Homo sapiens: one gene and its partners. Each later gene encodes a partner of the first gene's protein in a complex. Each region holds a gene or a part of one and is shown in the gene's direction. Other genes may lie near its edges. The genes, in order: TOPBP1, GINS1, BRIP1 and PHF8.

Region 1 (3,239 bases):
CAGTGAGCCAAGATCGTGCCTCTGCACTCCAGCCTAGGTGACAAGAGCGAAACTCTGTCTCAAAAAAAAAAAAAAAAAAAATGAAAAAAGGTAGATCTCTTGCATCCAAGTTGGTTCATTTGCTTCCCCTGTCCTTTATACCAGGGGTCAGTAAACTATAGCCACCTGGCCAAACCTGGCCCACTGCCTATTTTATAAATAAAGGTTTGTTGGAAAACAGCCATACTCATTCATTTATGTATTTTCTATGGCTGCTTTTGCACTATAATGGCAGAGTTAAGTAGTTTCAGCACAAATCATCTATCCCACAAAATCTAAAATGTTTCTGTCTGAGCCTTTACAGAAAGTGTGCTGACCTCTGCTTTATGCAGTAGTTGTCATATATTTTACATCTACATCTTATAGCCCCAAATAAGATTTTACTTTAAATAGGTTTTGCTTTTAACAATTCTGTGCATTTTGAGGAAACTAAAATAAAAAATGGTATTTTATAATTACCCTCATGTATACCAGTTTGAGTGTCAGTTTTCCCTGAAGATCTGAGTTTCCATCTGATAACATTTTCCTTCAGCCTGAAGAACTAACTTTAGTTTGGAGTGCAGGTTGATTGGGGATCAATTCTAGCTTTCTGTTGTATGAAATGTCTATTCTACCTTCATTGTTGAAGGACAGTTTTGCAGGATACAGAATTATAGATTGACAGGTTTTTTTCTTCTATTAAAGACTTCACTGTCTGCTGGCCTCCATTGTTTCTGTTGAGAAATCAGTGATGGTCATTTGAATTGTTCCCTTGTATTCAATGTGTCATTTTTGAGACCAGCCACCAGCCTGGGCAACACAGCAAGACCCTTATCTCCCCCTAAAAAAGAAACTCTAGGTTCTATTGTTCCTTTGCTCCTCCAAAGAGTACTGTGTTGTTTAACAGGCAGTTTACTTCATACACTGTGTTTGCGTCCCCAGCCCCCCATTTGCTTGGTTCGTTTATTCTCCAGGCTCTATGGTTGCTTTTAATATATTTTGGTCAGAATTTGTAGCTGTTATCCATGGAAGAATTGAATCAAAAGGCACTTACTTGGTATTTTGTGGTGATTCATTTTCAGGTTGCCCAGTCTGCCATATTGCTAGAAAATTAAGTTTTATTACACTTATAATAAGGAGGAAAAGATCCATTTCTATGTTGGGAAATGGTTGTGGGGGGAAAATGCAAGGGTTTTGGAGTCAGATCAGTTATGAAATTTGGCTTTGCTACCTGCTAGTTATGTGACATTGGTTGTTTTCATTTAACCTTTTTTATTTTATCTCAAAAATGGGGATTAAAAACACCGATATGAAATGTTTGTAAGATCTGAGCTAGTCCCACTCTACCTGAACCATACACGTATTTCTTTGATAAAAGGTGAGACTTTGTCCCACAGGGTCCATTTTGTTTAATTTGCTGGAACCTAGGAATGAATATGCGTTTTCCTTTAAGTTTGTCAGATTCATCCCTGAGAGGTCTGAGATTTAAAGAAAAAATCTATTACCAGATCACGTAAATGTTTGAAATCATTTTAAAAAATCACTTATTTTTCCTTTTATAGGAATCACCTCCTCATGTAGAAAATTACTGTCTACCAGAAGCTATTTCATTTATTCAGAATAATAAGGAACTTGGGACTGGATTATCACAAAAGAGGAAAGCTCCTACAGAAAAAAATAAAATCAAACGACCTAGAGTACACTAATCGCATCTACCCTTTAGTTACCAAACATTAAATGTTTTTAAAAATTGAAAGCCTGAATGTGACTGTGATAGATTTGGGTAGTAATTTAAAGATGAGTACCTGAAGAATTCTGCTTCAGAGTATAATGATGACCCTTCTTGAGTTTTGAACACCTGAAATTGTAATCACTGAAATATTAACTGTTTCTTAATAAAAAGTTACCTGAAATAACAACAAAATACAACTCCTCAGCTAGCTTGCTGTTAAACCACATTGAAGTCTGTTAAAAGATATTTATTTTTCTTGTAAATATCTGAAGCTGTAGCTTAGTGGAAATTTTAGCAAGGTAATGGATTTTGCTTTAAAATGTCTGCCTTACAAATTCATAACAACAAGATTTGTCAGTCAGCATTTATTCATGTTTTCCCTGATTTTTATCTTCTCACCATTTTACCTCTTTTAACAGGAGCCTGAGCACAAGGTTTAATGAGGAAGCTGGGGCTATAAATATGTGTGTATATATGTATATGTATGTTTGTACAAATCTCCATGATGTTTGCCAAGTTTGAATGCGCAAAACTTGGAAAATGTGACAATAAAGAATAAAAGTAGTAACTCAAATTAGTATTAAGATGTGTTTACATAGATAAATTTTTTAAAAGAGCACCCTGGCATCTGTTCTTCTGTTGAAGCAACAAAACATTTATGTAACGTAAAAAATGAATTGCAGGGGCCTGGGTGCGGTGGCTCGTGCCTGTAATCCCAGCACTTTGGGAGGCTGAGGCAGGCGGATCGTCTGAGGTCGGGAGTTTGAGACCAGCCTGACCAACATGGAGAAACCTCATCTGTACTAAAAATACAAAAAATTAGCCCAGTGTGGTGGCACATGCCTGTAATCCCAGCTACTCAGGAGGCTGAGGCAGGAGAATCGCTTGAACCCGGGAGGCGGAGGTTGCGGTGAGCTGAGATCGCGCCATTGCACTCCAGCCTGGGCAACAAGAGCGAAACTCCATCTCAAAAAAAAAAAAAAAAAGAATTGCAGGCCAGGCACGGTGGCTCATGCTTGTAATCCCACCACTTTGGGAGGCCAAGGTGGGTGGACTGCTTGAACCCAGAAGTTCAAGACCAGCCTGGACAACATGGCGAAACCCCATCTCTGCAAAAAATAGCAAAAAATTAGCCGGGCATGCTGTTTGATGCTTGTAGTCCCAGCTACTTGGGAGGCTGAGGCATGAGAATTACTTGAACTCAGGAGGCAGAGGTTGCAGTGAGCTGAAATCATGCCACTGCAACTCCAGCCTGGGTGACAGAATGAGACCCTGTCTCAAAAAAAATAAATGAATTGCTTAACATTTCTGATATTTGTTATTTAGAATATTGCCCTATTAGATTAAAACATACTGTTATTGGAACTCTGTATTGCATTAGCCTTTATTATGCTAAACCTAAACACCTAATACTACATGCGTTACCAGAATTCTCTATAAATACACCTAATTTCATTTTAAGGACAAACTAGAATCCGTTAGGAATGTA
Region 2 (7,035 bases), on another chromosome or scaffold:
GGTTAAGCAATTCTCCTGCCTCAGCTTCCCTAGTAGCTGGGATTACAGGCGCCTGCCACCATGCCCAGATAATTTTATGTATTTTTAGTAGAGATGGGGTTTCACTATTTTGGCCGGGCTGGTCTCGAACTCCTGACCTCAGGCGATCCACCCACCTCAGCCTCCCAAAGTGCTGGGATTATAGGCGTGAGCCACCGTGCCCGGCCCAACACACAGGCTTTTCTTCTGGAATCACTCATGGTTAAGCGCTGTGTTCAGCAAACAGAAAAGTGATTACACCCTTTCTATATGCAGAATTGATACTTTTTTTAAAAAGTACATTTTTAAGAAAGTTAGGCCAAGCATGGTGGCTCATGCCTGTAATCCCAGCCACCACTTTGGGAGGTCAAGGTGGAAGGAACACTTGAGCCCAGGAGTTCGAGACTAGCCTGGGCAACATAGTGAGACCCCATTTTTACAAAAAATAGAATTAGCTGGGTGTGGTGGCACACACCTGTAGTCCCAGCAACTTAGGAGGCTGAAGTGAGAGGATTGCATGGCTCCAGGAAGTTGAAACTGCAGTGAACTGTGGTCACGCTATTACACTCCAGCCTGGGTGACAGACTGAATCCCTGTCTCAAAAAGGAAAAGGTAAGAAAATTACCTTGGGCTCAGGTAGAAGTCATGCTTGCATTTTCCATCAGGAATTACATCTTTTGAGCAGAGTTGAGTAGTTGATTTTGGAATTGTGCCATTTGTATATGCCACAGCATTTTTGCCAACACATATATTTTGGCCCTAAAAATAGACAGTGAAAAAGAGATGGGATTGCTTCTCTTTCGATTGTTGGCAGACCTATTGGGTAACATTTAATCATTTTGGGCTGGACACGGTGGCTCCTGCCTGTACTCGCAGCACTTTGGGAGACCATGGCAGGCGGATCACTTGAGGTCAGGAGTTTGAGAGCAGTGTGGCCAACATGGCGAAACCCTGTCTCTACCAAAAAAAAAAAGATTACAAAAATTAGCCAGACTTGGTGGCTTACACCTGTAATCCTAGCACTTTGGGAGGCTGAGGTGGGTGGATTGCCTGAGGTCAGGAGTTCGAGACCAACCTGGTGAACATGGTGAAACCCTGTCTCTACTAAAAATACAAAAATTAGCTGGACGTGATGGGCACCTGTAATCCCAGCTACTTGAGAGGCTAAGGCAGGAGAATCATTGCTTGGACCCGGGAGACGGAGGTTGCAGTGAGCCAAGATTGCACCATTGTACTCCAGCCTGGGTGACAAGAACAAAACTCCGTCTCAAAAAAAAAAAAAATTAGCTGGGCATTGCTGGTGCACACCTGTAGTCCCAGCTACTCGAGAGGCTGAGGCAAGAGAATCACTTAAACCTGGGAGGCAGAGGTTGCAGTGAGCTGAGATCGCACTACTGCACTCCAACCTGGGCCACAGAGTGAGACTTCATCTCAACAACAACGAAAAAAATCAGAATTCTAATGTTTTATTTTTCCAAGGGAAAATTTGCCCGAAACTGGATACTAGAAAAACTCCTATGGCCGGTTTTTGCAGTGCAAACCAAAAACACTATTCCTTTTTCTTTCTTTTGGTATTAACCTTTTAAGATCACTTTTAAGCTGGGCCCAGTGGCTCATCCCTGTAATCCCAGCACTTTGGGAGGCTGAGGCGGGTGGATCACCCGAGGTCAGGAGTTCAAGACCAGCCTGGCCAATATAGTGAAACCCCGTCTCTACTAAAAATACAAAAAATTAGCCAGGCGTGGTGGTGGGCGCCTGTAATCCCAGCTACTCGGGAGGCTGAGACAGGAGAATTGCTTGAACCCAGGAGGCAGAGGTTGCAGTGAGCCGAGATTGCACCATTGCACTCCAGCCCAGGCGACAGTGTGAGACTCCATCTAAAAAAAAAGACCATTTTTTAGTAAATTATGAATTATTTACATATTTTTCTTTATACCTCATGCTTCAGTAGGACGATTGATATCTTTGTTCGTCAATTTTATTGATGTATAATTTACATACAACATGTGTATTTTAATAGATTTTTGAATTTTGACTAATATGTACATCTTTATAACCAGCACCCTGATCAAGATTTCTGTAATTATCAAAATATCTCATATAACCCATAAATATACATACCTACTGTGTACCCACAAAAATAAAAAAATTAAAAAAGATTTCTGTAACTTTGCCCCCCTTTTGTAGCTACCTCCCACCTATAGCCTTAGGCAACCATGAATTTGCTTTCTCTGACTACAGATGATATTATTCTTTTTGGCAAACTTTTCCTGTGAAGGGCCAGAGGGAATCATTTCATGTAAACTCTTGTGTCAGGCATCTCTTGCTCAGTATAACGTATTTCAGATTATCCTCATTGTTGTGTATGTTGTCAGTAGTTCATTTTTTTTTTTTTTTTCTTTGAGACGAAGTTTCGCTCTTGTTGCTCAGGCTGGAGTGCAATGGCATGATCTTGGCTCATTGCAACCCGGGTTCAAGCGATTTCCCCTGCCTCAGCCTCCTGAATAGCTGGGATTACAGCCTGTCACCACGCCTGGCTAATTTTTGTATATTTAGGAGAGACGGGGTTTCACCATGTTGACCAGGCTGGTTTTGAACTTCTGACCTCAGGTGATCCACCCGCCTCAGCCTTCCAAAGCGCTGGGATTACAGGCATGAGCCACCACCCTTGACCCATTCTTTTTATTATATTAGATTTTTCAGATAAGTGGAAGGTTTATCCATCTATCATTTGATGGACGTTTGGGTTGTTTCTACATTTTTATTGTTATGAATAATGCTGCAAAAAACATGTGTTTTCTGTTTTCTTGAGTATATATATACACCTAGGAGTAAAATTACTGAGTCATATGGTAATTCTGTGTGTAGCTTTTGAGGAACTGTCAAGTTTTTGCCCACAGGGCTATACCGTTTTACATTCCCACCAGCAATGTACGAGGGTTCCAGTTTCTCCGCATCTCACCAACACTTGTTATAACCATGCTAGTGGGGTGTGAAAGGACTATTGCTTTTTGCTAAAGTATATAAATGAAAGATACAGTTCAGTATTGATAGCATATTGCCACAGAATTGGTGGGGAAATCAGTGGATTTCAATATCGGTTTATATGTTCTAGGAGGATGGACTCAGACAAGTTCTGGAGGAGATGAAAGCTTTGTATGAACAAAACCAGTCTGATGTGTAAGTTTCATAAGATGATATTCTAAAACAATTCAATAATTAAGATGTTGAAATTGGCCGGGCGCGGTGGCTCACGCCTGTAATCCCAGCACTTTGGGAGGCTGAGGCGGGCGGATTACGAGGTCAGGAGTTTGAGATCAGCTTGGCCAACATGGTGAAACCTTGTCTCTACTAAAAATACAAAAATTAACCGGGTGTGGTAGTGGGTGCCTGTAATCCCAGCTACTCAGGAGGCTGAGGCAGGAGAACTGTTTGTACCCGGGAGGTGGAGGTTGCAGTGAGCTGAGATTGCACCACTTCACTCCAGCCTGGCGATAGGGCAAGACTCTGTCTCCAAAAAAAAAAAAAAAAAAAAAAAGATGTTGAAATCAGATAACCTTGCATTAGTTTTGGGATGCGATTTTTAAAAATTATCTGTAAAATTATCTGCTCTAGCTGTACAAATTAGCAAAAGTCTGAAGAAATTTGTGCTGATCACTGCTTAATAAATATCTGTTGTTTGGCTGATAAGAGTTGAAAGGAATTAGAGTGGACCTAAAATAAATGACATACCCTAAAATAAAAAATAAAAATAGGCTGGACACGGTGGCTCATGGCTATAAATCCCTGTGCTTTGGGAGGCCAAGGCAAAAGGATCAGTTGAGGCCAGGAGCCTGGACATATAGCAGGACTCTGTCTCTATTAAAAAAATAAAAATTAGCTGGGTGTGGTGGCACACACCTGGAGTCTTAGCTACTCAGCAGGGTAAGGTGAGAGGCTTGCTTGAGTGCAGGGGTTTGAGGCTGCAGTGAGCTATGATCACGTTACTGCACCCTAGCCTGGGTGACAGAAGGAGATCTCCATCTTTAAAAATAATAAATAAAAATAAAAACCTAACAAAGTGAAATACATGGTTCCCACTGTTTATATTTTTATCAACAGTTGCCTTAGTGAGTTTGTTAAAGGAAGAATAGGCAGTTTATTAAATGGATATAAATAGGAGCAGCAGTGATTTCTGATAGTTTGAGTGGAGTTCTCTGAGAACTAGCTATAAAAGGTTTCAGTGTAGTAGGTCCAGAGAGGTGACTAGATTTATTGACTCTTTAGAACTGAGCATGGTAGCTGGCACAGTGGAGAATTTGGGCGTATGACAAACTTCGTATGTTCCTGTGCGACACCAAAGGGAGTCAAGTACTGGATCAAAGTTGAAGTATTCAGGGTCTCAACTGTCTGTGACATGAGGTTTCCTCTTTGGGCTTGTTCGCTACAGTGTTTTTATCAGTTACTTGAATATAGAAATCAGTGTTATGGCTGGTAAGATTTGTGAGGCACATAAAATGATAGGAGCATTTCCAACTCCTGTGTATAAGGAGAGATACAGAAAAATCTTTACAGGTGGACTGAGGAAGTGAACCTCAACAGATTTGCAGTAAATATAAGGCAGATTTAAAGTCCTGAACTCAAGTCCCTAAGCCATTCATTGATTTACTCAAATATGTACTAAACAAATATGTATCAATAAGTGGCTGTGCTATTTCAGTGGTAAACAACAGTCAAGATGGCTTTCCCGGGCTGGGCACAGTGTGGCCCATGCCTGTAGTCCCAGCACTTTGGGAGGCCGAGGCGGGTGGATCATCTGAGGTCAGGAGCTCGAGACCAGCCTGACCAACATGGTGAAACCCTGTCTACGAAAAATACAAAATTAGCCATGCGTGGTGGCGCATGCCTGTAATCCCAGCTACTCCGGAGGTTGAGGCAGGAGAATCGCTTGAACCTGGGAGGCGGAGGTTGTGGTGAGTCGAGATCGCGTCATTGCACTCCAGCTTGGGCAACAATAGCGAAACTCCATCTCAAAAAAAAAAAAAAAAAAAAGATGCCTGTCCCTGGCGCTCACTGTCTAGTGCAGAAGACAGACATGAAATATAGATATGCCAAATTGGGATTCATGCTATGAAGGAAATCAGAAGAGTGCAAGGAGAAAGAAAAATGAATAGAAGGTCTAGCTTAAATTGAGGAATCAGGGAACTTCTCTCCAAAGAGGAGACATTTCAGCTGAGGCCTGCAGGAGATGCAAGTCTTAGGGAGGCAGTGACTGTGGGCATAGAACATTCTAGGTGGAGGGAACAGCATATGCAAAAGCCCCTGAATCATGGAAGAGAATGGGGCACTCAAGAAACTGACACTTAAAGAAGACCTATGTGGCTGGAGTTTGGCAAGTGGCAAAGGATGACACCAGATGAGGTGTAAGTGTGGACAGGTGGTGGTGTGTTTGTGTCTTAAAAGATAATGCTGGTTGCTGTGTGGAGGGGCTGAGAGGTGGGGGAAGCTGGTCACCAGGTTACTAGAGAGGTGACCCAGACTTGGTAGAAAGTGAGAAGGTTATAAATGTTTTGGAGGAGACCCTATAGGCCTTGGTTCAGTAAGGGAATGATTTTCTTGTATTCTCTGTGTTTATGCCATTCGCAAATTCATGATCCAAAATTCTTTATTCCACCTTCCTAGTTTCATCAGACTTTCATAGGGTGGCAGAAGTATATAGAACAGCCCTAGAAGACATGACAGGATGGGACATGTATTTTGCCTGTATTATCAGGGCCTAGCACAGTGCCTGGCATAGAGGCAGGCACTACATGAATGAATTCTTTTTATATGCATATGGTTGCTTAAAAACTCCAAAGTAGATTCTTATTCATTCAAAAGTTACATGTACTTTTTATAGGGTAAAACCAAAATTTTCAGTGTGAGAAATACTGAAGTATAGTACGTACACGTATTTGGAGATCAACAGATATTTGTAAGATGAGTGAAAGACCATTTTGACTCCATTTTACCTCACTTTGTTATAATGAGGATTTGGAAGCTCCACTGGAAGGGAGGTACTATGTAGAATAGCGACATGACGTAAGACCATAACCTCATGTCCATCATGTTAGCTTTGTCTCTTATCTCAGCGTGATAATGGAATCCTGAAAAGTGAATAACACAGTGTCTTTTAGAAAGAATAGAGATTAATCAGTGTGCAAAAATGCAAAGTACCAAATGCCTAAACAAAATGTATCTGGTAGCATGATCTTAGGCAAGTTGTTTAGGTTTTGGCTTTTTAACATATTAATAAAAGCTCTGATGTACAAATAGTTATTATTTGCTTAGGTTAACTGCTAATCACAAATGGATTAAAAACAAGCATGTAACTCAGTTGTTAGTTGGCTTTGAAAATTTTACTTATCCTGAAAAGTACATATTTTTTTTCTTTTTAAATGCTCCTATCAGGAATGAAGCAAAGTCAGGTGGACGAAGTGATTTGATACCAACTATCAAATTTCGACACTGTTCTCTGTTAAGAAATCGACGCTGCACTGTAGCATACCTGTAAGCTTCTCAGTTTTTGCTTGGGGTGGCAGGATTTTCTGTGTGGCTTCCCAGTTGACCATCTCAAATGGGTAACATGAAATCTTAGATCTCTCTCTCTTTGTAAGCATTCTAAATTTTTCCTCTGTGTTTTCATTTTTTTAATTTTTTATTATGAAAAATCACAACACTTTTAAAAGTAGGGAGAATAATACTATAATGAACCCCAGTGGAGCTATCATATGGTTTTAACAATTTTTATTATTTTGCCATATTTTTTTCATCGTGTTTCACTTGTTGGTGCCACACTATTTAAGTGCATCACGGTCTTTCACTACTGAATACGGTAGTGTTCTTACTATTTTTTCTTTGTCTTAGAAATAAGGACCTTTGGCCAGGCACAGTGGCTCATGCCTATAATCCCAGCAATTTTGGAGGCCAAGGCGGGTGGATCATCTGGGATCAGGAGTTCGAGACCAGCCTGGCCAACATGGTGAAACCCTGTCTCTA
Region 3 (6,965 bases), on another chromosome or scaffold:
AACAACTCTAAACTGAATGGGAACAGTAAAGTATTGTCTTGGAATCACTAAAACAATTCAATTCAACATGAGTATAGTTTAGAACTTTATGAGAATTATGCTTGCTTGTTTCTGATTGGCACATCTTTGGATCTACTTTGCTGATATGTTTCTATTGTAGCAGCTGAGCTTTTTTTTTTTCCACTGGGAACACATGTAAGAAACTCATTATTGGAAAGGGAATTTGGCCTTGTATTTAGCTTTTGAAGTGAAGACTGCCATGCCTTTAATTTCTTATAAAAATGAGTCTGTGGGTAGCCCTAGTGTTTATTTTAACTGTGAGCTTGTAACAGAATGTGACAAAGATGCAAAGATGGGAGAGGAAAAAAGGGTAAAGGGAAAGGAGAATTAAGGAAATAATAGGAGTTAAAAACACAAGTAGAAATCTCAAAGATTTGCAGTGCAAGTAATAGTAATGCAAGTTGGAATTCTAGTTCTCAAGAAAGAGTATTGAGAAGACTTTTAAAAAGGCAAGTAGCTTTTGTAAATGATTTCTGTGGAAATACAGATGAGGATTTAAAGATTTCACATATTTGCTTCAATTTTTATTAATATATGAAGCCATATGTTTAAAGAGATACTTGAATAATTTGGAATTTTAAGATACTGGTGTAAAAGTGTTTACAGAAACATCTTTGTTCAAAGAAGAACCTGAGAGATCTCATTTAGTTTTATGTTTTAAATTTATTTTTATAATGCTTTATTAACTTACCTAATGCTCAGAGGGGGGAAATATGTATCAAATTAAATGAAGGTAGAGCAATAAAACCCACTGGATTAAAGAGCTCTTGGTTTGTCATCAGGATTATAATTCATATCTTACTTTGAGAAGATCTTTGAGTAAGAAAATGCAGTGTTTGAACCTGAGGAAAAGTTAAAGTGTAGAAAATATTGTCTTGCCGAAGGATTTTGCAGTCCTCTGTCAGTAACTTCCATTGATTAGGCAGACATATTCAGGTAAACCCTAATCATTAAAAAAAAATTATCAATGTAGAAAGTAATTCCCTTTTTTCTCTCTGAGATATACCTCAATCACACACTTCCCCACCCCCACTTGAAACAGACCTCTTCACTTGTGTTTTTTTTTTTTTTTTCCTGAGGTGGAGTCTTCCCCTGTTGCCCAGGCTGGAGTGCAGTGGGATGATCTTGGCTCACTGCAACTTCTGCCACCTGGGTTCAAGGGATTCTCGTGCCTCAACCTCCTGAGTAGCTGGGACTGCAGGCACGCGCCACCTGTATTTTTGTATTTTTAGTAAAGACGGGGGTTTGCCATGTTGCCCAGACTGGTTTTGAACTCCTGGCCTCAGGTGATCTGCCCACCTTGGCCTCCCAAAGTGCTGGGATTACAGGTGTGAGCCACCGCACCTGGCCAGACCGCTTCACTTGTAAAAGAAATTAGGCTAATAAGAAGGTGTAGTTTTTGAGAAATGAAATTTAACTTTAGCCTTTTCACTAGTAAATAGTCACATCTCATTTTCTTCCTTTGTAAAATGGGGTTACTACTGGCCCTACCTCATATTCTATGAGAATGAGTTTGTAGCTGTTTCAAATCATGAAGTGCATAGTATCACATGTGATAGAATATTTATAACTTTTTATTAGATGCTTAATGTTCAATTAAGTAATTTTGATGTGAAAAATAAAAGTAATAAAAGTATCTTAAAAATAGCATAAGAATTTTCATATTTTTAAACAAGGCAGTTTTGTAGTCCCTTAAGATTAAATACAACTGCTCCTTTTTTTTTTAAACTGAGGCCTTGCGATATTTTGTGTGAATAGATATGCCCTAGGAGTTCAGAAAAAGTTAAAAGTATGTTTTCTAATTAAATGCAGTGCACATTCCTGGATCAATATTCAAAGACTGGTCATAACCTGCTGTGTTAAAATAATCACATATGCTCTTTTTCATCAGATTTGTTGATGATGTAAATAAAATGTGTAAATATATTAGTAAATGTTAATATTCATGTATTTTAAGTTAAGGTTATAAAATTTGTCACAATGTGTTTTTTTATTCAAGTGAAAACAGATGTGTGCAGCTATTTTGAATATTGGTTTATAAACATTCATATTCTTTATCAAACGAACCTGTAGTTTTTGTGTTTCATTCCACTAGAGTTAACCTGAAGGGAACGGTTCAAGGGACTGTATTCGAGGTCTGTATGGCTCCAGGGCCTACGTGTATCCCTTTCTGTTATGCCACATACATTAAATGGCAATGCAAGGTGAGAGCCAGTTGAAACTCTTAGTAATTTAGGAGAGGAAAATGAGAGTAGTTATACTAGAGCAGTTACTCAAAAGAGTTGATTTTTTTTTTTTTTGAGACGGAGTCTCGCTCTGTCTCCCAGGCTGGAGTGCAGTGGCGCCATCTCGGCTCACTGCAAGCTCCGCCTCCTGGGTTCACGCCATTCTCCTGCCTCAGTCTCCCGAGTAGCTGGGACTACAGGCGCCCGCCACCACGCCCGGCTAATTTTTTGTATTTTTAGTAGAGACGGGGTTTCACCGTGTTAGCCAGGATGGTCTTGGTCTCCTGACCTGGTGATCCGCCTGCCTCGGCCTCCCAAAGTGCTGGGATTACAGGCGTGAGCCACTGCGCCCGGCCAAGAGTTGATGTTTTAAAAATTATAAAAGAGAAATGACAATTTGAAGGTATTTTTAAGGATTTATTTTTAAACATTATCCTTCCTTTCATTGTCTTAACAGTAAATTACTTCATCTTTGCTCATTCATATGTATTTTCACATTACTGAATCCCTAACACCCAGTTTGGGGTTTGCTTTGCCTTTTTTCACTTAACCTTATATGGGATTTTTTCTTGCAAGTTTAATTTTTATAAGTTTATTGGCTTCATAATGTATTGAATTCATCTGTCATAACCACCTCCATATTACTAGACTGGGAAGTTCATAATTTTTTTCAGTATTACCAATAGATATTATTGTCAATTGCGGTATCACATTTTCTTTCGTTTAGATTACGTCTTTAGGATAAATATCTGGAGCTCAGATTACTAGGTCAAAGGGTAGAGTTTATTTTTATGACTACAAGTTTTGTCATTTTTGGTAAGATATATCACAATTGACAATGAGGCAAACAAATCAACTAGCCCCCTCCTGCTCTTTCTTCCCAGCAAACTCCTTCCCCAAACTAGTTACTTGAATTTGAGAAACAGTATGAGGTTTTGCCTTTTGGAGACATTATTATTTGAGCCAAGTTTAGGTTATACAGATTTTTTAAAAAAATAACATGATTTGGCAAGATCATGATGAACCTCCTTTTCTTTGAGTAAATTAAAGTACTACTGGCAAATAATAAACTGGTCTTAGGAGGGATGGAAGGCGGATAAGCCTTAATGGAAGTAGAAGTGATCTGATACTGGAGACCCTGAGAGCTTGTCTCTGGCTTATTTTAGCATCCGGGAAAGCCTTGAATATTATGAAAGATAGATTGTAGCCCGATGTCACAGAGCCTTCTTACTTAAGTTTGGCTCAGCAGTCTGGCAATTCCCGCCTGAGTCTTCGCTATCCTGGCTACTGCAAAGCTGGGTAATTTAAATTGAGTGGCACTGATAAATGCTCAAAGAACTTGGCAAAGCTTAAAGATACTTCCTTTCCGCTGGTCTACGGACGTGAAGAATGAGACTTCCAGTTTCCAAGGAATTTGCTGCATAGACTCTATCGCCGGTTTCAAAAGTCAAACTGAGACGACTTTCTACTTTAAACAAACACTAGGGATTTGCTGGAGTGGCGACAACCTTCCGCCGCGTACCTTGAGCCCTTGTTTTTTTTTTTTTTTTTCGGAGACTTCCATTGGATGCCGAAGTTCTCGCCCCCTCACCTCGCACCGGGACTGGTTGATTCCTGGCCTTGGCGGGTGATTGGTCGAGCTCGCTGGGCTATTGGGCGCTGGGAGTCGAGGGGGCGGGAGGCGGGAATTCGTCTCGGGTTGTGTGGTTGAGGGGTCTGGTGGGTCGAGGAAAGGTAACGGCGGCCCCAGTCCTGCACACAAGGCCGGGGAAGTAGCAGCACCCCCAGGAAGAGGGAGGAGGAAGGGCTCGTGCCCTTTCTTCTCTTCCAGGGCTCCGCTTTATTTGCTCTCAGAAGTCGGTTTCCTTTCCTTTTCTTCAGTGAATCGGAGCTCAGAGCGTTGCTTCGGTTTCCCTCCAGACAGGCAAGTCGGAGGGAAGTCCACGGAAAGGGCTTGAGTTCTTCTGCACAGCCTGCGGGCCCATGGGTGGTGACTGGATCACCAGGGTCTCGGGGATCTCAACTGGCTGGGGGAGGAGGGAGATACGGGGCAGAAAACCTGAGGAGGGAGCCTATCCTTACCTCCTTTGAGCGCAGGCCTGTTCTTAGCCCGGGCGCTGCGTTAATTCTTGGCGGGAGGCAGAGGGGTGTGTTTATCCTTTATGCAATGTTTGGGGGAAGCTACCCCATTTTGACACTATTGTTGCCACAGCCGGGGTACAGGACGGGCTGATTTCTAGATTATATCTGAGTAACTAGGCCAGCGTTGAGTTGTTGATTCATATTAAGAGGTTAGATTCCACCATACCTCATTCTCAGAGCTTTACAGATAGAATCGCAAAATGTTAGAGCTGGAAAATACCCTAGAATAATGGTTCTTCTTTTGGAGCACACAAGCAGTGGTGAATGTTATTATTGGCTTCATAATCTATTGAATTGCTATTTTAACCATCTCTTCGTCCCCAGGTTGAATTTACAATTTTTTCCCACGACTGCAAATAATTCCTTATTTAATAACAGTGCATGTAATTTCCCCCGCTATTTTGATTTCCTTGAGATATATTTACGGGAAGAGAAATCTATGGACTTTTTCTTCAGAAAAATGCAATCATGTACAGAAACTTATGCTTGCAATTTCAAGAGGTCATTGTCTCTGAATTACATCCGTGGATCCTAGGTTAAGAAAAGTGGTTTAGAAGAGGTGAGGATTAAAGTGATCCTCATCTGTATCAGATCCTGGGTTAGGTACATTCTGCCCTGGCTAATTTTCATAAAAACCCTGTCAGGTAAGTAGTAGTATTTCAATTCCATATATGGAGAAACAAGCTCTGAGAAGTTAAGTGATTCACACAGTGGAATTCAAACTTAGGATTGCCTTACTCCAAAGCCCATCCTGTTTCTATAATACTCTACTGATCTTCAAATAACATTTTTGAGTGCCTACTATGTGCCAAGGCATTCTCTTTCTTATAACAGCCTTTAAATTAAATTAGGGGTTATCACAGGTAAGGATCTTAGACTAGAGAAGTAAAAAGATATGTCAAAGATAACATACCTGAGTCAAAGATAACATACCAGGCAGTATACCAAAACCTGGTATAGAACCTATGCTTCCTGACTTCTGGTCAACAGCTTTTTTCTTCTAACTGGAGGACTGCAGAAAGGGGTAACACAAAGGGGAAGAACTGGAGAAAGAGTGATGCTACGGAGTTGTAGAGAGAGAGGCCTCAGGAACTTATTTGTTTCTGTAGGTTGATTACATCTGATCTAACTGTTACAAGAGCTCATGTTTAATCTGGTATGTACTTTATCATATTTGCACATTATTTCACTTAATCATTACCACAATCCTATGGGGTACATGCAGTCACTGTGGCTTAGAGAAGGTAACTAACTTTCCCGAAGTCACACAACTAATACCTGGCAGAGTGAAGGATACAAATCTAGATTTGTTAGACTCTAAGACATGCTCTTGACCGCTGTGATTTATAAGACTAGGAAATTATTTTGTTTCCATTTGTTTTGTTTATACTTTTATTAATTCCAGTTTCTGTTTCCAGATTTCTCCCTTAGTTTTGGTTCTCTGGTTTTCTTTGTAAGGCGTGTCTCAATATTTGACATTTTCATTTCTGTTGTAGTTAGGAATCTGAAATAAACAGGAAAGCACTATGTCTTCAATGTGGTCTGAATATACAATTGGTGGGGTGAAGATTTACTTTCCTTATAAAGCTTACCCGTCACAGCTTGCTATGATGAATTCTGTAAGTATTTTTCAGCAGTTAAGTTTTTATTAAGATATAGATACTTATGACCCATAAAGTACATTGAGTATTTGACTGCATTCATATTCTCAGTAAATGGAGAATATTTTCTGGGTTCACTTGGAAGAATATCTAACCTCTGGGAAACTACTGATTGCAGCTAAACTGTATATATCTGTGGTTAAGGCAAAGAAGAACATTCTGAAAAATGTTCTCAGCTCATTTGGAATTTCTATACTTTTAATGAAAAACTGCTATACTTTTAAGTAAAAACAGAGTATTTACTATCTTTTACACAGAATACTATTTTTCTCACCATTGTTTTGTTTGGATCATGTAGAAAATTAATATACAAATTTGAGTAAACCAGCTTTCCAGTTTTGTTACAGCTATTTTGCCATATGTACTTCATATCTTATTTACTGGTAACAAGATTATTAGTATCCTGAATTTGTTCTTTTCCTTTCCTAGCCATGTTTTTATACTTTTATTACATATATATGTATCCATAAACAATATAGAATATTATTTTACATATTTGAAACTGTGCATTGATGTGATACGGTACCTTACTTTTTATGCAGAACTTGAGTTTTTTAACTTAGCATTATTTTTAATGTATAGCCCTGTTGATTCTTAATCCATTTTAATTGTTGTATAAATTCCATTGGATGAATATACCAGAATTTATCTGTCCATTTTCTTATTGGTAGACATTTAGGTTGTTTACATTCTTTTGCAGTTACAAACAATGCTGCTGTGAACTTCCTTTTTTCTTTTTGTTTTTGAGACAGCGTCTCACTCTGTCGCCCAGATTGGAGTGCAGTGGCGCGATCTTGGCTCACTGCAACCCCTGCCTCCCAGGCTGAAGCTATTCTCCTGCCTCAGCCTCCCCAGTAGCTGGGATTACAGGGATGCG
Region 4 (7,269 bases), on another chromosome or scaffold:
CTTCCAGGGCAGCCTGGTGCTGTGGCAGCCAGGTCCCATCATGGGCTGCATCCTCTGAGACTGGACCAGTCCACACATTTCCAGGGCAGCAGCCAGCTGCCTCCCATCCTTAGCAGTGGCAAGACTTGCTTTGTCAGCAAATCTGACTGCCTCTGGTTCAGACCCCTGGCAGCTTTGCCTTTCCTAATATCCTTTGTCCACTCCCCACCTCTCAAGGACACTGGGGAGGAATTTTAGGAGTCGGGGTAGGAACCACTGTACCTAGGTCCAATGCTACCTCTTGTGAAGCCTTTCCTCACACACCCACTGAATGTGTTTGAATTAACTGTGACTGCCTCTTTGTTCCCACACCACACAGGTTGCTCAAACCTCTATGTAGCACTTAGGGTTTGACCTTTTCCAGCCTCCTTGTTTTGTTAATTTATTAGATCGTCTATTCCCTAAGGGTACACACAGGGTCTCTAATTCAGGCTTGGAGACCCTGACCCCCACCTGTAGCCCACCCAGTCCTCTTGCCCCCATCTTAGGGCTTTAGCACTTTTTTTTTTTTTTTTGAGATGGAGTCTTGCTCTGTCGCCCAGGCTGGAGTGCAGTGGCACAATCTCGGCTCACCGCAAGCTCTGCCTCCCGGGTTCACGCGATTCTCCTGCCTCAGCCTCCTGAGTAGCTGGGACTACAGGCACGTGCCACCACACCCAGCTAATTTTTTGTATTTTTAGTAGAGATGGGGTTTCACCATGTTGGCCAGGATGGTCTGGATCTCTTGACCTCGTGATCCACCCGCCTCGGCCTCCCAAAGTGCTGAGATTACAGGCGTGAGCCACCACACCCGGCCAACACTTTTGATTCCTTTTGCCTTTGTCCCTAGCTAGCTCTTTTTGTTATTCAGGTCTCAGCTCCTGTCACCTTCTCTGAGAACCCTTCCTTGACTACCTTATCTAAAATAGACTGCTTTCCTTTCAAATCATTCTCTATCTCATAACTGGTCTTACTTTCCTGATAGCACTCACCTCAATTGGAAATTCTCTGATTTGCCTCACTTTTTATCCGTCTCCCTTGCTGGAAATGAGTCACAGGAGGGCGGGGACTTGTCTGTTTTGTTTACCCCTAAATCCCCAGTGCCTAACAGTAGGTGTTCAAGAAAATATGTGAATGAAATTCACATATTAATGAAATTTTATTTGATCATTGACTGTTTCCGCCAGTAGACTGTCAGCTGCATGCAGGCCAGGGCCTTATCTGGGGTACCTCAACATCCTCAGCACCTAGCACAGTGCATGATGCATAGTAGATTAATAAAGAACTGTTGGGTGAGGGAATTAATGTTCCACACACACCTGAACTCAACATAGTCCAAATTAAATTTAGTCTCCTCCCCACCAAATCTGTTTTCTCTTCTGCGTAGCCCAGTTCATTCAGTGGCACCGTCATCTATGCTGACACTCAACCCAGAAGTGAACTCACACCCCTTTCACTCACTCATCTGCTATTATCAGTTTCCAAACACTGCCTAGTCAACCTCCAAAATATCCAAATTATCTCATCTTTTTCTACCCTTTCCCAAACTATCCTGGACCAATTTTTTCCCCCCAACACTAGTGAAACAGCCTCATTCCTCCTGACTCCTTGTGAAGCTAAGACATCTTAAACTGCAGGACCTGTCACTTTCCATAGGGTCACATGGTGATGTGTTTTATAAAGTTCACAAAATACATTTAAACAACAATTGGTTCAAAGTGCTGTCCCTTTCCACTGAGGGCCTGGCCATACTTTCCCTTGCATTAGGTGGTGTTGGAGCTGCCTGACATTTTTGAGATCCACCTAAGGGGAAGTTGATTTGGGGGATATATTTAGGTTGGGTTTCATGGGATATTTGTTATTTAAAAATTCATTTTATTTTTATTTTGTAGAGACAGGGTTTCACTATGTTGCCCAGCCTGGTCTTGAACTCCTGGGCTCAAGTGATCCTCCCATCCTGACCTCCCAAAGTGCTGGGATTACAGACATGCAATCTGCACCCGGCCCCATGGTACATTTACATGTGCCTTGTATCACTTCTCTTCGTAATTATTACCCAGGTGAAGGAATTGCTTGTAGAAATACTCTTACTGCCTACCTTTGAACCTAATTTTGTATTCATAAGTCATTTTTTTTTTTTTTGAGATGGAGTCTCGCTCTGTCACCCAGGCTGGACTGCAATGACACAGTCTCGGATCACTGCAACCTCCGCCTCCCGTGTTCAAGCGATTCTCCTGCCTCAGCCTCCTGTGTACGTGGGACTGCAGGCATGTGCCACCACACACGGCTAATATTTTTATTTTTAGTAGATATGGCGTTTCACCATGTTGGCCAGGCTGGTCTCGAACTCCTGAACTTGTGATCCGCCCGCCTCGGCCTCCCAAAGTGCTAGGATTACAGACATGAGCCACCGCGCCCGGCTATTTTTTTCTTAAAGACGTCTCACCCTTCCTCCCCCAAACCATATAAGCTTCAGGTCCCATTAAACCTGGACCTTTCAGTGCAGTGGCTCAGGCCTGTAATCCCAGCGCTTTTAGAGGATCTGAAACCAGGAGTTTGAGACCAGCCTGAGCAATATAGCGAGGCCTGGGCTCTATAAAAAATAAAAAATAACCGAGTGTGGTGGTGTGCGCCTATAGTCTCAGTTACTCATGAGGCTCTGGCGGAAGGACCGCTTGAGTCCAGGAGTTCTAGGGTGCAGTGAGCTATGACCGCCCAGCCTGAGTTGACAGAGTGAGACCTTGTCTCTAAAACAACAAACATAAAAAAAAAAAAAAACCCTAAACCATCCTCTGGGTAAGTCACAAATATGAGACTAAGCTACCCCTGCTCAAAAACCTGTGTTTTCTTTTTGCTAACTGCATACAATCTAAACTCTTTTGCATTTCGCAATCTTTCATGTTGTGACCCTTTACTGTTTGACCTCCTACCTATCTCTCTTCTGTTTTCCTTGTTCCAACAATATTCAACTTCTAGTAAATATTTTTCTATGTGCCTCCATGCATTTGTACACGTTGATCCTTTTGAGTACAATGTTCTCGCTTGTTTATTTAAGTGAACTTAATCGTCCATGTCCCCCTGCCGTCTTTCTTACAGCAGCTGCAAGCAGCTTGTAAGGCTCTTTTGTAGCTTCATGTTGCATTTTGCAAAGGTCATTTTGCAGGTGGTATTTGTGTGCTTACTGTGCCTTCTATTCCAATTGTTTACTCGCAACTTTGTTTCCTGCACTGGCAGATGCCCTCCCACTCCAGAGGCCCTGTTTTCACCATTGCATCCCCAGGGCCTACCCCACCATCACTGGTTAGTAAATTGTGTGCACGCACACATTTCCTTTTTAAAGCAATGGGACCCTTTAAGAAAATGAAATAGTAAGATAACTCCTAGAGAATTTTCTAGAATGTTTGAGAAAACCTAGGCCATCTTGAAGCATATGTACGAAGCTCCACTAACTCAGCAAAGCTCCACTAACTCAGCCTTTCCTCTCATCCCCCCTCCTCTCCCCTCCCCTCAGGCTATAGTCAGAAAATTGTGGGACAGGTGCAAACAAATCCTTGAACTGTATTTGAACTGAAGTGAAACAGTAGGGTCAAAGAAGAGTTCAGAGGGAGTTGTGGAGTTGGCAGCAGCTTTACAGAGGAACTACACTGAGGGCCTGGGGACAGAACGCGGGTAGCACAGGGCACAAGGTTCAACGTCCCTGCTCCGGGACTCAAGTCACTTGGCTTCTCGAAGCCCCTGCCTTCATTTGGTGATAATCACAGAGCTTCCTTCACAGGGGGAAGAACCAACAACGCAGAGACCGTGGGAAAGAGCCCAGCCTATCGAAGGTGCTCAATGAACAGGAGCCGCGGTGAGTACTCCGCCTCTACCCCGGCTGAAGCCCGCCCCCGCCGCCACCTATTAATTTTGTAGTTTGGAGTCACCGAGTTCACCTCCTCTCATAGGAGGAGAAGGCTGGGGAGGAGGAGTGTGCGAGTCGGGGTAGCTGAACTCCCTGTTTGCCCGGAGGAGGGGGAAGGCTAGGAAGTTTCGGGCCCCACTCAAAATGGAGCCAAACGTCTGCCTCGCCTAAGATGGCGGCTTCTCCGCCTCTGGGCTCAAGGTCTTCAGCGGCGATTGGGCACCTTAAAGAGACGAGCGGGTCCAAAGGTGGCTGAGAACCGCCCTCCTTTCTCAAGGTGGCGCCCCGCCCCCCCGATGACGTCACCCGGGAGCCGGCGGCTCGCGGTTCCCCGCCTCCGCCGCGCTCACCTCGCGAGTCCAGCCCTCATAAGATGGCGGTCGCCTTGGTTGTCTGGGTAGCGCCGCCACTCTCAACATGGTAGCTGTTTATCCCGTATTTCTCCTCCCCTCTCCGCCTCAACTTCCTCATTGTTTTGAATAAACTTTATTGACTACTCCGAATTGCCTACCACCGCCACTGGGCTTCTCCCAGCGACTTTTCGGGCCGTGTGCCTCGGACGTGGCGGCCGGTTCATCTCTTTCCCCGTTGGTTTGCTCGCGAGTATCTCCTGCCGGCCCAGCGACGACGCCACTTGCCCGTTCGCCGGGCGGCCGCCAGACTAGGCCCAAGCCGCGGTCTCCAGTAGGCCCGAACGGCCGGGCCGAGGGGAATGTTGTGGAGGAGGCTGCTCTGAAGCACCGTTGAGCGGCTGGCGCCGCGCGACCCAGCGGGGGGCTCGAGGGGAAGGCGAGCGAGGTTCCCGGCGGTACGGGGACTATCCCAGAATTCGACGCGCGTCGCCGTAGGGGCCGGAACTACCGGACGAGCCTCCGCTGAGGCGCTTCGCAGTCCCGGAGCTAGCCCGGCTGCCGGCGTGTCGCTGGGGCTGAGCTCCGCGGGCGTGGAGTCCTTGCAGCCCAAAGCATGAGGAGGTCCCTGTAGGATTCTGGACTGAAGACGTTCTTGTCAGGTTTGGGGCGTGAGGAGGTTCCTGTCAGTTGGGGAAGCGTTAAGATTCCTGTAAGTTTTGGGGGCTGCGAGGCTATTACTGTCAGTTTTAGGATATACTGTGAGGTACCTGAACATTTGGGGAGACTAGGGAGCTCTCATCAGTTTGAGGGGGGGCTGCAAGGAAACGCTGCCAGTTTCCGAGCGATGCAAAAGAATCCTTGCTTAGTTTCGGGAGTGTGAGGAAATTCTAGTCAGTTTGAGGGGTTTTGAATAGATCCTTTTGAGTTTCAGGGATGCAGCCAGAACCCTGTCATCTTTAAAGTACAGAACGAGCTGGTCAGTTTAGAGATTTATATTTATTTCAGTTTTGGGGGTGATGAGACTCCTGACTGGTCGGGGAAGGAATGATATTGAGAGTGATGGAAAGGATTATTTAAACTCTCCGAACACGACCCCAGAACTGTGATTTGAGTTGGGCGCCTAGTCTTGTCTGTCTTGTTCGTGAAGGCTTTGAGTAACCTGAAGAGACTTTCAGGGATCCCTTATCTCTCTCTGGTTGGCCCTATTTCAGGTGGTGAGAGGAGGGTCTTGTCTTGAGATACCCCCAGCCTCATTTTTGACGCTGTGGTTTGCGTCATAATAGAGGGAGCCCTGTGAAACAGGGGTCAGCTAGGGGAGGGTTCAGTGAGAGATGAAAGAAGCTTCCCGAAAAGGCTTCAGGTATTTTCTTGAAACCCGGAAAGAAGTTATCACTGACAACGGGGCCGAAGAAGGTGGGGGGTGGGGAGTGGAGAGTGTGGGGGCGGTGGGAAGCCTGGAAGGTTGAGCTCCGTTCTTTACGTGTGAAAGAAATTCTAAGGGCCGGGTGGACTTTCTCTGGTTGCCCCCTACAGCCGCACCAGCTGTGTTGCATCCCGGCGGCGGTAACTCTATTGGAGAACTGAGGGTTGGTGCAAGGGGGTGGGGGGCGGGGGCTGATTCACTCTGTAAAAAGTGTTATTTGTGCCTAGCTATCGTCCAGAGAGGACGCGTGCTGCCGCCTCCCGCCCCTCTTGACACGACGAACCTGGCCGGCCGCAGAACGCTCCAGGGCCGAGCGAAGATGGCCTCGGTGCCGGTGTATTGCCTCTGCCGGCTGCCTTACGATGTGACCCGCTTCATGATCGAGTGTGACATGTGCCAGGACTGGTTTCATGGCAGGTAAGGAGGGCAGGCCAGGCTACACAGGGTGCGGTGGCCAGGTGTGTTCACTTGCTCTCTCTTCCTTTCTCAGCTCTGTTTTTAGATTCCGGCTCAGGACCCCCTCTCCCAGACTCAGGTTCTGCCATCTCTCCTTGCAGAACAGGACCTAGCTGACATTAGCCTCTGGTTTCTCCTTTTCCTGTGTTTTCCCCTATGTATTTCTTCTTTGCACTTTTCTTTTGAGTGTTTTTTTAGATTTATAAGACCCCCCCCCCCTTTTCTTTCCTGTTACAAAGAATCATTTTTATATTCTTCTCTATTTTATTTTTTATTTTGTTTTATTTTTTTCGAGACGGAGTTTCGCTCGTTGCCCAGGCTGGAGTGCAATGGCGCGATCTCGGCTCACAGCAACCTCTGCCTCCCAGGTTCAAGCGATTTTCCTGCCCCAGCCTCCAAGTAGCTGAGATTACAGGCATGCACCACCACACCCAGCTGATTTTGTATTTTTAGTAGAGACGGTGTTTTTCCATGTTGATCAGGCTGGTCTGGAACTCCCGACCTCTGGAGATCTGCCTGCCTCGGCCTCCCAAAGTGCTGGGATTACAGGCGTGAGCCACCGTGCCCGGTCATCATTTTTATAGTCTGACAATTATGTTCTGCCTCACACACTGGCTTTTGGGAAAACAGTGTTGCTTATTTGAGGTAGTTGAGTCCATAAACAGGGATTTAAGTTGTGGCTTTGTACTTAGTTTCAGAGTGACCATGCACAAGTTGCTTTGCTTTTCTGAGCCTCATTGTCTTCAGCTATAAAATGTTATCAAATACATCCTTTCTGACTTTGCAAAGCAGTTTGGATGTACTCCATAAATGGAGGCAGAAATGGAAGAGTATTTTATTTCTACAGCATTTATCTGCAGCACCATCCAACTAAATTGAATTAAGCAGAATAGATGCTGGGTAAAACAGGAGTAAAACCACTGATGAATTTCCTTCAGTTAACCGTGTGTGCACATAAGCACCTGTCACCCAGAATTCCGGAGAGGTTAGTGTGTACGATAAAACTAATATTTCATTAATGGGATTTAAATCTCAGCTATGGAAAGACAACCTTGAGGGGGCTTTGTACACTGGAGCACAACAAAACAGTGTATGGCACCCTCCTCCTGTTGCTTGTT

Evidence for each region.
Region 2: the proteins of TOPBP1 (region 1) and GINS1 are in contact, whole or in part, in a cryo-EM structure (PDB 8OK2), measured with the Homo sapiens proteins. Residues at the interface, in NP_008958.2 of Homo sapiens: Leu490, Leu491, Ser492, Gln493, Tyr494, Glu495, Asn496, Leu586, Ser587, Arg588, Thr589, Val590, Val596, Cys601, Glu602, Val603, Ala605, Thr606, Val607, Gly608, Val610, Lys629, Pro636, Val637, Pro638, Val639, Met640, Thr641, Arg726; in NP_066545.3 of Homo sapiens: Asn43 (codon at 3,185), Gln44 (codon at 3,188), Val47 (codon at 3,197), Asn48 (codon at 6,449), Lys51 (codon at 6,458), His66 (codon at 6,503), Arg91, Tyr94, Gly95, Ser96, Asn100, Arg103, Phe104, Arg119, Ala122, Met125, Glu132, Gly133, Leu134, Asp135, Thr137, Gln138, Asp139.
Region 3: the proteins of TOPBP1 (region 1) and BRIP1 are in contact, whole or in part, in a crystal structure (PDB 3AL3), measured with the Homo sapiens proteins. Residues at the interface, in NP_008958.2 of Homo sapiens: Leu1272, Ser1273, Ser1274, Leu1275, Asn1276, Pro1277, Arg1280, Gln1298, His1311, Leu1313, Arg1314, Asn1315, Glu1316, Lys1317, Leu1319, Gln1366, Arg1407, Gly1410, Phe1411, Leu1414, Thr1466, Glu1467, Ile1469, Ala1470; in NP_114432.2 of Homo sapiens: Ser1129, Tyr1131, Phe1132, Thr1133, Pro1134, Glu1135, Leu1136, Tyr1137, Asp1138.
Region 4: the proteins of TOPBP1 (region 1) and PHF8 are in contact, whole or in part, in a crystal structure (PDB 7CMZ), measured with the Homo sapiens proteins. Residues at the interface, in NP_008958.2 of Homo sapiens: Gln1298, Cys1299, Arg1314, Asn1315, Glu1316, Leu1319, Arg1369, Ser1406, Arg1407, Gly1410, Phe1411, Arg1413, Leu1414, Arg1465, Thr1466, Glu1467, Ala1470, Asp1471, Gln1475, Asn1483 (codon at 1,602), Tyr1484 (codon at 1,605); in NP_001171825.1 of Homo sapiens: Gly842, Ala843, Cys844, Phe845, Asp847, Ala848, Tyr850, Ile851, Tyr852, Pro853, Ser854, Leu855, Glu856.

Annotation. Positions count from the first base shown.
Region 1 is NC_000003.12:133,599,735-133,602,973, reverse strand, and holds the end of TOPBP1 (DNA topoisomerase 2-binding protein 1), read left to right. Parts: intron 1-1,580; coding exon 1,581-1,724; 3' UTR 1,725-2,736; downstream 2,737-3,239. UniProt on the Homo sapiens protein: Scaffold protein that acts as a key protein-protein adapter in DNA replication and DNA repair. Composed of multiple BRCT domains, which specifically recognize and bind phosphorylated proteins, bringing proteins together into functional combinations.
Region 2 is NC_000020.11:25,410,657-25,417,691, forward strand, and holds part of GINS1 (DNA replication complex GINS protein PSF1), read left to right. Parts: intron 1-460; exon of another isoform or gene 461-630; intron 631-3,133; coding exon 3,134-3,198; intron 3,199-6,447; coding exon 6,448-6,546; intron 6,547-7,035. UniProt on the Homo sapiens protein: Required for correct functioning of the GINS complex, a complex that plays an essential role in the initiation of DNA replication, and progression of DNA replication forks.
Region 3 is NC_000017.11:61,860,528-61,867,492, reverse strand, and holds the start of BRIP1 (Fanconi anemia group J protein), read left to right. Parts: upstream 1-3,964; 5' UTR 3,965-4,209; exon of another isoform or gene 4,210-5,583; intron 5,584-5,923; 5' UTR 5,924-5,953; coding exon 5,954-6,046; intron 6,047-6,965. UniProt on the Homo sapiens protein: DNA-dependent ATPase and 5'-3' DNA helicase required for the maintenance of chromosomal stability. Acts late in the Fanconi anemia pathway, after FANCD2 ubiquitination.
Region 4 is NC_000023.11:54,041,474-54,048,742, reverse strand, and holds the start of PHF8 (histone lysine demethylase PHF8), read left to right. Parts: upstream 1-4,269; 5' UTR 4,270-4,981; exon of another isoform or gene 4,982-5,632; intron 5,633-5,922; coding exon of another isoform or gene 5,923-6,014; coding exon 6,015-6,112; intron 6,113-7,269. UniProt on the Homo sapiens protein: Histone lysine demethylase with selectivity for the di- and monomethyl states that plays a key role cell cycle progression, rDNA transcription and brain development.